3 linked regions of the Homo sapiens genome follow. The protein of the gene in region 2 interacts with the protein of the main gene of each other region in a biochemical or structural test. Each region holds a gene or a part of one and is shown on either strand. Other genes may lie near its edges. The genes, in order: GDF2, ACVR2A and BMP7.

Region 1 (2,789 bases), on a different chromosome or scaffold from region 2:
AAGGAGCGCCGGGGCTGGCAGCCACTGTCAAAAGACCTCCCTGCGGGTAAACTTCGAGGACATCGGCTGGGACAGCTGGATCATTGCACCCAAGGAGTATGAAGCCTACGAGTGTAAGGGCGGCTGCTTCTTCCCCTTGGCTGACGATGTGACGCCGACGAAACACGCTATCGTGCAGACCCTGGTGCATCTCAAGTTCCCCACAAAGGTGGGCAAGGCCTGCTGTGTGCCCACCAAACTGAGCCCCATCTCCGTCCTCTACAAGGATGACATGGGGGTGCCCACCCTCAAGTACCATTACGAGGGCATGAGCGTGGCAGAGTGTGGGTGCAGGTAGTATCTGCCTGCGGGGCTGGGGAGGCAGGCCAAAGGGGCTCCACATGAGAGGTCCTGCATGCCCCTGGGCACAACAAGGACTGATTCAATCTGCATGCCAGCCTGGAGGAGGAAAGGGAGCCTGCTCTCCCTCCCCACACCCCACCCAAAGCATACACCGCTGAGCTCAACTGCCAGGGAAGGCTAAGGAAATGGGGATTTGAGCACAACAGGAAAGCCTGGGAGGGTTGTTGGGATGCAAGGAGGTGATGAAAAGGAGACAGGGGGAAAAATAATCCATAGTCAGCAGAAAACAACAGCAGTGAGCCAGAGGAGCACAGGCGGGCAGGTCACTGCAGAGACTGATGGAAGTTAGAGAGGTGGAGGAGGCCAGCTCGCTCCAAAACCCTTGGGGAGTAGAGGGAAGGAGCAGGCCGCGTGTCACACCCATCATTGTATGTTATTTCCCACAACCCAGTTGGAGGGGCATGGCTTCCAATTTAGAGACATAAAACACAGGCAGATCAAGTAGCATTGATCAATGGCATGATTCCAACTCAGATTTGTGGGACACCAAAGCCCAGGATCTTCCCAAGTGCCCTGCTGCAGTTTAGCAGGTCCTCTCCAGCTAAAGAGCAGTGAGACATTGGGAGCCCAGGAGTGTTGAGGCCAGGCCAGGCTGAGGCCCATCAGTCACAGGTGTGACTGGGCTGCTTGTCACACACAGGGCGTGGTCTGGCCACTGTTGCCAGTGCTCACTCAGCGGCCACATGCTTTTTAATATGACCCCTGAGGCACTGAAAAATAACCCCAGGCCAACTGCAGGATAGAGAGAGAGGTCAGGACAGCAGCCCTGTGGGCTGCATGATACACTGTGGCTGGAGTTATTGTGACCCCCTGGTGCAGTGCTCCCACGGCCAGTGGTGCACACAGGGCCATTCACTGTCCATAGACTGAAACCATGTGACCATTTGAGAGGGCCGGGCACACTTTCCCCTGAGGGATGGGGCAGCCTGTGGCCAGCACCTCTGCAGTTACTCTGCATAGCCAGCTCACCAGCATGCCATGCCCAGGGTGCCCCCCAGTGACAACCTCATGGGAGACGGGCCTGGATTTGAATTTGTTGGAATTAAATGTGCTCTGGCTTTGGTCTTTGAAACATATCTATTTTTATTCCTTGGTGACATGTCCTTAAGTGACAAGACTCCAGCCTTCCTGGGCGAGGCCTCTCCAGCCTCGGAAGAGCTGCAGTCCTTATCGGCTATCACTGGCTCTGCCTGCATTTGCCGGCTCTCTTGAGTCACGTGCATCCCAGCACCCCGCCTGGGCTCGGACTGTGGGACCAGACTCAGCCTCCCCGAACACAAGGGAAGATAAGGCTTCCATTTGCTCTGTGTTTCACCCTCTCCTCTGTCTCTCCAGGCCACACATGGAACGGGGCGGTATGAGGAAGAGTCTGAAAGTGGTGAAGAGTGCACCTATGGCCCTCTGACCTCCAGCCAGAGCAGGGCCTAGGGGAGGCTTAGAGAGGCCAGGGCCTCTCCCCGTGGTTGAAGCTCCCATTTATTTAAGAAAAAGTGGGGGGTGGGGAAAACGTTATGTTAAATGTTTACATGGAACCAATGAACAACTTTAACACACAAATACAACGAAACATTCTTGTTTAATTACTGGCGTTATAGAAAATATGAATTCCTGCTACATGCCGGGCAGTGTAGTGTTACAATGCTATTCCAAGTTGGGTGTTGAGCATCTTCTTTCAGTCCTGGTGGTGTGCTTCTGTGCCTGCTTGAAAATTTCACTCGGAAATAAAGTCAAATGTCTAATTTGCAGCCCCTCCTGAATGTGAGACCCAATCTGGAGGACCCTATAGACTCATACCCTGCCTACCCCACCCTCCAGACCCCACTGGGTTGGGCCTCCCCTTCCTAAGGAGGCAGAGGGGAGGGGCAGGCAGCCATCTCAGGACTGGGTGGATGCAGGTGGGTGGTGTCTGCACACTGGGGTGAGTGATGTGGTGTGTGCACATTGGGGTGAGTGATGTGTTTGCACACTGGGGTGAGTAATGTGTGTGCACACTGGAGTGAGTGATGCAGTGTGTGCACACTGGGGTAATATGTGTGCACACTGCAGTGAGTGATGTGTGTGCGCACTGGGGTGAGTGATGTGTGTGCACACTGGGGTGAGTGATGTGATGTGCACACTGGTGTGAGTGATGTGTGCACACATTGGGGTGAGTGACGTGATGTGCACACTGGAGTGATGTGTGTGCACACTGGAGTGAGTGATGTGTGTGCACACTGGGGTGAGTGATGTGTGCACACATTGGGGTGAGTAATGTGTGTGCACACTGGAGTGAGTGATGTGTGTGCACACTGGGGTGAGTGGTGTGTGTGCACACTGGTGTGAGTGATGTGTGCACACATTGGGGTGAGTGATGTGAAGTGCACACTGGAATGAGTGATGTGTGTGCA
Region 2 (3,754 bases):
AGAAACATTTTTCTGTCTCACCATTATGATTCTGTCTTCCATGAAAGGGAAGTGAGGCAGTTCAGGAAATAGGAAATTCTAGAGGTTCTTAAGACAACTATCAGAAAGTCTGAGAAACTGATTTCTAGCTATATATAAATTTGTTAGGGCTGCTAGCTCGTTTTTGCTAAAGGCAATACTGCCCTCTAGTGTCGAGAAGGCAATTCCAATTTGTAAATTCCTTGTTTTATAATTTAGACTCTAGAGGCTCTTAGAAAAATAAATAATCATTATTTAAGACTTGATTTAGTTTGTTTGCAGGCATGAAGTCATTGGATCAGTTAACTTGGGATTAAACTGGAGTCAAGAATTTGTTTACCACCTATCTCTCATATCTAAGGGGTTCTTTTTGATATTACTTTCCTCTGTTTGTAAGGAAAGTGTTCCCTATCTTTATTTAAACAATGTAAAACTTTGGATCATTGCCAACTTTTAAAATACTAAACCATTATTCTCTTTCCTTCACTTTTGTAACTGATGTGTCATTTTTCATTTCATTCTGGATATGAATCGTAATTTCTTTTGCCTGTGTTTTTTCTTCACAAGCACGCCTTTCATATAATGATAGAGGTAAGATGCATTGATGTTTGTTTTATGGTTGTGGAACTTTCTGTGGATGCATACTAAACATTTTGTTCTTAGATTTTTGTTGTTGTTACTGCTTTACTGTGCATCCTCTATAATTTATATATTTATGTCATAAAGGGTTCTCCCTCACCCAGCTTTTATAATTAAAATGTGATTGATTTGACTTAGGAATGGCTTTTAGTTTTAAGAGACTGAGAGTATTTATATTTATTTAAGGTAGGATGTAGAAAAAACCGTTTTACTTGATTAGAAGTTAACACCTTAACGGCTCCATTCGCCTCAAAAACCTTGTATTGGTTAATTTTTATATGTCATTAGCTTAAATGTCAGCATGTGTTCATTTTTAACAGGGGTCGATTTTCTAATCCAGCCCATTGTATTTAAATGTGAAATAGATATTTTTAGATAGCTTCATCTTTGGCATCTTTAGCAAATGAACTAGCTACAGGAGTATAACTTTTGATGATATTTTGCTATCTGAGGTTTAAGCGTTTAATTAGATTAAAATTCACCCTTCAAATGGAGAACTCAGAATAAGTAAAATGATCAGAGATGACTTTGTAGCTTCCCACCTCTAATAATTTATTCCACTGTTGGTTATAGTAATGATATTGGGTAGTGGTTTGGGGGCAGGAGATTACTTTTTACCAGGTTATCATTTCAGTATGTGTTCTGAAGCTGATGTCTTCTGATACCATAATTTTTACATATAAATGAGTAAAGAAGAAATGTAATCAGAACTGTGTTTGAATGCATATCTTTTTAGTTTTGCAAAATAGCATGGATGTTGTAAGAGAACTGGAAATTTAGGGAAGTTTTTAGGAATTCTGAAATCCTTCTAGGTGCCTCTCAGCTCCCCATTGGTTTCTCTATGTAGCCAGGTAAAGCCATATTTTGTGTATGACATCAGAAATTGCTTGTCATTTTGAAATTTATGTCTACATTTGTCTTCCCAGGGGCTCATATATTTTAAAGGTATACATTTTTATTTTTAGAATCAAGTATTGATTTTTTTGTGAATAAATTACTATAATGATGCCAATTAATTGAAAATCATTTCTACTATTATAGGATGAGTGAAACTTACAGATGAATTTAAAGTTTCATTCTAGTAATTTTTTATTTAAAAAGGATTAGAGATTTTATAATCTGTCCTACAGTTATCATTTTTGAACCCAATCCTTTGTGTATTAAAGAATATTATTTAAAATTCCATTTTTGAAAAGCTCATGTCATTGCTAAAGGTTTTGAGATTCTACAGGAAGACCTTGTAGACCTTTTTGTCACCCTTTCGAAATTGACCAGTATTCTTTCTAATTGAAGCTTTTACCTTTTAAGTAATTTTGACAACAATATTTGTTCTGGCTGTTACTATACAATATTGAATAAATTATAGTAGGAGGGTGATCTAAGATTATTTCTTTCTGAAATAATGATAGCTTAGAAACTTGTTAAACAGAGCCTTGGGAATGTATGGGAACTTGAAGTATATGCATTTGGAAAACATTTAATGAACTTTTTTTTTTAATGTAGATATTAAAAATTATTTTTTCTAAAATTAATGTTATACTAAAATCATAGTTTGAATTGCTGACATATTAATTGTGGATTAAATAATCTATATCTTACAGACTGAATCATATTCATGTTGTTGATGTCCTTTAGAACAGAGAATGGGTAATGTGTAGATTAACTATAGAGACATTACCAGTGTACATAAAAGCTATTAAAAATCTTAATATTGTAATTTAGCACTGTATTCCCTCTACCTAGTTATTTTTCCTCTTCAGCTTTCAGCCATTTTCTGTATACTTTAGTTTTTAGTTTTTGGCATCCCCTCTGGTTTGAAACCTATCTCTCTACCTTTCTAACATTTTCTATTTAGTTTAAATATGTCTTTATGCAGTTATACAATAACTCTTTGCCCTTGAGGACTGAATGGTTTCCTTTCCTGTAGAAGAGTTGTTTTCAAGCTTTTTTTCTCTTGTCTCCACATTCATATAAGCAGTCTGCTCTGATCAGTAGAATTTCTCGGATAGAGGTGATCACTTGAAGAATGAGGGAGGGAGGGTGTAGTTTTTAATAAAAACTCTCTAGAGGTTCTTGTGTCCCCTCCACTGAGAATCACACTTGAGAGCCCATCCTTCCTATAAGATTTATATCTGACCTCCTTGACCCGTCACTCTGCTAAACAGAAACGTTCTTTCATGTTTTGAATGTGGGAAGGACAAGCAACTTGTAGACAAAAAAAAAAAAAAAAAAAAAAAAAAAAAGTCTGAGTTTGAAATGAGTCACAAGAAGTCTTTTGTTTTATCTTACTGTTTAAACAGGAATTCTAAAGCCATTTTATAAAGATGGTTTCATTTAGAAGAAGAAATTGCATGTTTTTCCTACATAACACCTTGCAATGTTTCTGTTGCTGAGGTTCTTTCTAGTACACAGTAAACTTTTAAAACTCCTGAGTGGCACCAGTGAGCTGAGTGATGCCTAAAGAAAGCACTAACTGTCTTTGAGGCATTAGAAGAAGAGAGAAAAAGAAAGGCAGAGAGGATGCATTGATCTGGGATCACATACCATTTCCAAGTGTCTGAGGTGCCACCCAGTGTCATCATATCAGTTGCTTTTGCCACAGAAATTTTAGTTCCTCCTCAAAATACTCATTATGCAGCCCTCCAAACCCTTCTGTTGCTTTTCTCTGGAAGCTTTCCAAAAGGCTTCCTGCATCTTGCTTTAGTTGCAGATAGGGAACTGAGAGAATGCTTTCAATGGAGGGTTGCATTCTGCTTTGATAGGATTTCCTTGTGATTTGTAGATGCTGTATTCCTATTTATATATTATGTTTGCTCTATTTTTAAAAAACTATAGCAGTGCACGTTTCTTTCATTTACCATATCCTGTTATCTACTATGATGACCACTTCTTTTCTGGATTTTTATTCGTACTTCTTTGCCAGTCAGTCAGTTCCAGAACACAAATGATTTTTTATCTCAGATCAAAGGGATGAATTGTTAATATGTTTAAAATTAGAATGAACCAGTTTGGTTAAAGAAATATTTACTTACATATTTCCTGTATGTGCTTTGTATTTGATATACCTATCTGCAATGTGTTTAAGAATGACTGCCGG
Region 3 (3,754 bases), on a different chromosome or scaffold from region 2:
TTTTCCCAGCAGGTTGGATGCAGAATCATGCTCTTGTCGTTCAGGATGACCATGGGGACCATGGGGTCTGAGCCTGTGACCCTCCAGTCTACAGTGTGTTGGTGAGGAAGGAGCAGTTGTCACTGGGGTCACTGGCAATGGGCATGCCTCCATCTAGCTTAGGCAAGATGCTTGGACTCAGAGCCAGAGAGTGAAACCCAGACACTAATGAGCTGTCGGTGTTGGTGTGTGTTCTCTTCCTCTTCCAGTGGAACATGACAAGGAATTCTTCCACCCACGCTACCACCATCGAGAGTTCCGGTTTGATCTTTCCAAGATCCCAGAAGGGGAAGCTGTCACGGCAGCCGAATTCCGGATCTACAAGGACTACATCCGGGAACGCTTCGACAATGAGACGTTCCGGATCAGCGTTTATCAGGTGCTCCAGGAGCACTTGGGCAGGTGGGTGCTATACGGGTATCTGGGAGAGGTGCTGAGTTTCCTCTGGGGGCAGAGGAAGAAGGTGGTGAGGGCCAGAGGATGGGTCAGATTGGCACAACCACGTGCCAGGCCCTGTACCAGATTATCCCTTCTAAAGAAGGTGTATGGTGTATGTCACTTCCTTAAAACCATGACCGACAACAAATTCAGGAATAGTAGAAGGCCAGGGAGCCCAGGGATGCGTGGTGCCTTGTGGGTTTTTATAGGCAGTCTAGATCTGGCTGGGTGCTAAGGGACATAGAAGAAAAGGGGAAGGGGAAGAAACATTTTTGAAGGGCTACCTCTCTCCCGTTTCTCACTCTGAAACCCAGTGCACGATGTCAGGCAACCAATTAAGGTGGCCATCTAAAATAAAATGTTAGGGGAAGAAAAAAACCCAAACCAAAAAAAACAGAGAACTCTTAGCCTTCCAAGAATCACTAGGTCAGAAACCAAACGTTTGTGTTGAAAGTCTTTAATTTATCGAGATCCATTAATTTCAAGGTCTTGTGAGAGGTAAGGAGGCTAAGAAAAAGGGCTGGGACATTTAGCAGGTGCATTCTATTCAGACAGTCCCGAGGCAGAAATGACCAAGGTCCTATTACTCAGTGGCTGGGTTGCTGGACCCCGCAGGCTGTCAGACATCTACCGTCCCCACTGGGCAGGGAAATTGATGGAAGAAAGGTGGTGTGGGCACCTCCTTGTGATGTGCAGGCTTAGCATCTTCAGCTAGAAAGGGGACTTGTTACCATAGACAGGGACAGAAGAACCATCACAGCTACGTTTGCCAAGCACTGCTATTTGGTGCTGGTGGGGGGTGGGGGTGGGGATGGTCATCTAAGTACCAAGAAAACAAAACTGTTCTTGAGCGTTTCCAGAGTGTTTTGCACTTGATATCTTGTTTCATATTCACAGTAGCCTTCAGAAGTGGTGGCTTATCTGTAAAATGAGGAGAACTAAAGTGACCTGAAGCCAAAGAATGAGGCTACCCAGAGAGAATGTGGCCACATTAGGACGTGAGCCCAGGTTTGCAAAGCTGGAGCCCATGCTTATGAAAGATATTTCTTTCCAAAATTTGTTTTTAGGCCGGGTGTGGTAGCTCACGCCTGTAATCCCAGCACTTTGGAAGGCCAAGGCAGGTGGATCATTTGAGGTCAGGAGTTTGAGACCAGCCTGGCCAACACGGTGAAACCCCGTCTCTACTAAAAATAGAAAAATTAGCCAGGCATGGTGGCGGGCGCCTGTAATCCCAGCTACTTGGGAGGCTGAGGCAGGAGAATTGCTTGAACCCAGGAGGAGAAGGTTGCAGTGAGCCGAGATGGTGCCACCGCACTCCAGCCTGGGTGACAGAGTGAGACTCTTTCTCAAAAAAAAAAAAAAAAAAAAGTTTTTGAGTAGGCAAGACATGTTCATGGTATAAAATCAAAAGGAAAGAAGAGGAACCACAGTGAAAATGAAGGCTTCCAGCCCCTGCTGAGGTGGTCCCTGATGCCAGTTTCTTGAGTCTCCTGAAATCAGCGAAGGAATCTGTGTTGCTGTTTTCACCTGTGGAACCCCACAGTGCACTCACTCCTGCCTCTGGCTTTCATCGTTGGATGATGAACCTTGGCAGCCCTTTCCAGGGGTTCACACGGGGTGCCCTCATCCTCTGAGTCACCTCACTGTTCCACGGCTTGGGTTGTGCTGTGTTTCACGTGTGCACGCTGGCTCCTCTGTTCTATGATGGATGGTGCCGCAGGGCAAGTACCCTCGCTGACATACGTGTTCATGTCTATCAGTCAGATAAAGTTCTAGAGATAGAATTGTGGGGTCAGAGGGCCCACACATGGGTGGCTTTGGTAGACACTGCTGAGCAGCTCTCCTGGGAGGTGACATCGACATCTACTCCCAGCAGCCAGGGAGCTTCTTGCTTAGGATGAAACCACAGCCTCTGTGTCCAGGCTGTTATCTGGATTCTCCACTCAGCTCCGGCAGCTCTTGGTCCTTCCTGCTGGCTTTGTGGGCACCTGGTCCCATCATGGTCTGTGGTGCCTCTGCTGTCTTGCCTGAGATCCATGGGGTGGATCCTGAGGGCTGCAGGGTTGGGCAGCAGGCCTGAGCACTGTGTTTGGAGGAGGGATGGGCGTTCCAGGCGTCCTCCCTGCCAGGCTGCCGGCAACAGGCAACTTGGGCTGGGGGTGCCCATTCTAGTGCTGGGGTCCTGCTCCTGGGGGCTTCTGGGCTGCTGAGTGACTGAGTCCCTCCTCAGCACAGGTACCTGCTGCATGCCATGCCTGAGGGCATCGACCAGAACGAACCAGACACGAGTCCCTGCCCTCTGGAAGCTCACGTTCCAGCAGAGGAGAGGACATGGCAGGTGGGAGCATTGAGCAAGGAAGGGAATAGGGTGAGAAGCAGTGGAGGGCAAGACGGAGCTGCTTTCTTTAGGTTTCTACATGTTCTTCCTGTGCCTCCTGCAGCAAAGCCTCCATTCTTCAGAAGTTAAATGGTTAAATTTAAAAAATATATTATTTATTCATTTTTCTGGACAGGTTGTTTTGTTTTTCAACCTAGAACCAAGATGCCCCTATGATGTAATTCCCCAGCTATTAAGAGCATGGATTCAAATCCTGCCACCAGCTACCCATGTGGCCTTGGGAAAGAGTCATCTCTCAGAGCCTCAGTTTTTCCCTCTGTAAAATGGGGATAATAATTGAATCTCCCTCCCAGAGTTGTGCTGTGGATGAAAGGGGGTGACATACTTACAACAGTGTCTTACACACAGGAAGTGCTCAATAAATGGTCACCTGCGTTAGTATCATCATCATCACAGCAGGAAGTGGAGCAAGACCTCTTTAGGAAGACAAGAGCCCTGGGTGGTGGCTGTGGCACTGCCTTCCCATGTAGGTCCACCGAGCCAATTCCCCTAATTCTGCAATCTTCCAGTAGGAACAAAGCCCTGAGCTTGCAAATGCTCTTCAAATCCCCCACGCTTCCTCCAGCTCGCCTGTTCAGAGATAGGCTTTTTCTTTGCATGTCCCCAACCTGGTTGCATGTCCCCAACCTGGGCCCGCACAGCTTCTTCCAGCTGAAGGCCTCCTGCAGACCTCAGCCCGGGGGAGCCCAGAGCCTGCCCTGCTGTCCCCGCCATGTGGCTGCCTCTGTCTCTGTGCCGCCAGCTGCCCAGCTGTGCAGGGCTGGGACATCTGACGAGCTGTGCCTGAGCTCCAGGAAAGCCCCGGGGGTGCCGAGGATTAGCCGGCTTTGGGTCAGCCTCAGCGTCTCTCCCCTTGTGGGAGTCACTTTCCACTGACTC

Evidence for each region.
Region 1: the proteins of ACVR2A (region 2) and GDF2 form a complex in vitro, tested with the Homo sapiens proteins (2 studies listed by BioGRID).
Region 3: the proteins of ACVR2A (region 2) and BMP7 are reported together in a solved structure, tested with the Homo sapiens proteins (2 studies listed by BioGRID, with this or other methods).

What each region holds. Positions count from the first base shown.
Region 1 is NC_000010.11:47,325,448-47,328,236, forward strand, and holds the end of GDF2 (growth/differentiation factor 2 preproprotein), read left to right. Parts: coding exon 1-337; 3' UTR 338-2,141; downstream 2,142-2,789. UniProt on the Homo sapiens protein: Potent circulating inhibitor of angiogenesis. Signals through the type I activin receptor ACVRL1 but not other Alks. Signaling through SMAD1 in endothelial cells requires TGF-beta coreceptor endoglin/ENG.
Region 2 is NC_000002.12:147,910,952-147,914,705, forward strand, and holds part of ACVR2A (activin receptor type-2A isoform 1 precursor), read left to right. Parts: intron 1-3,754. UniProt on the Homo sapiens protein: On ligand binding, forms a receptor complex consisting of two type II and two type I transmembrane serine/threonine kinases.
Region 3 is NC_000020.11:57,224,916-57,228,669, reverse strand, and holds part of BMP7 (bone morphogenetic protein 7 preproprotein), read left to right. Parts: intron 1-248; coding exon 249-441; intron 442-3,754. UniProt on the Homo sapiens protein: Growth factor of the TGF-beta superfamily that plays important role in various biological processes, including embryogenesis, hematopoiesis, neurogenesis and skeletal morphogenesis.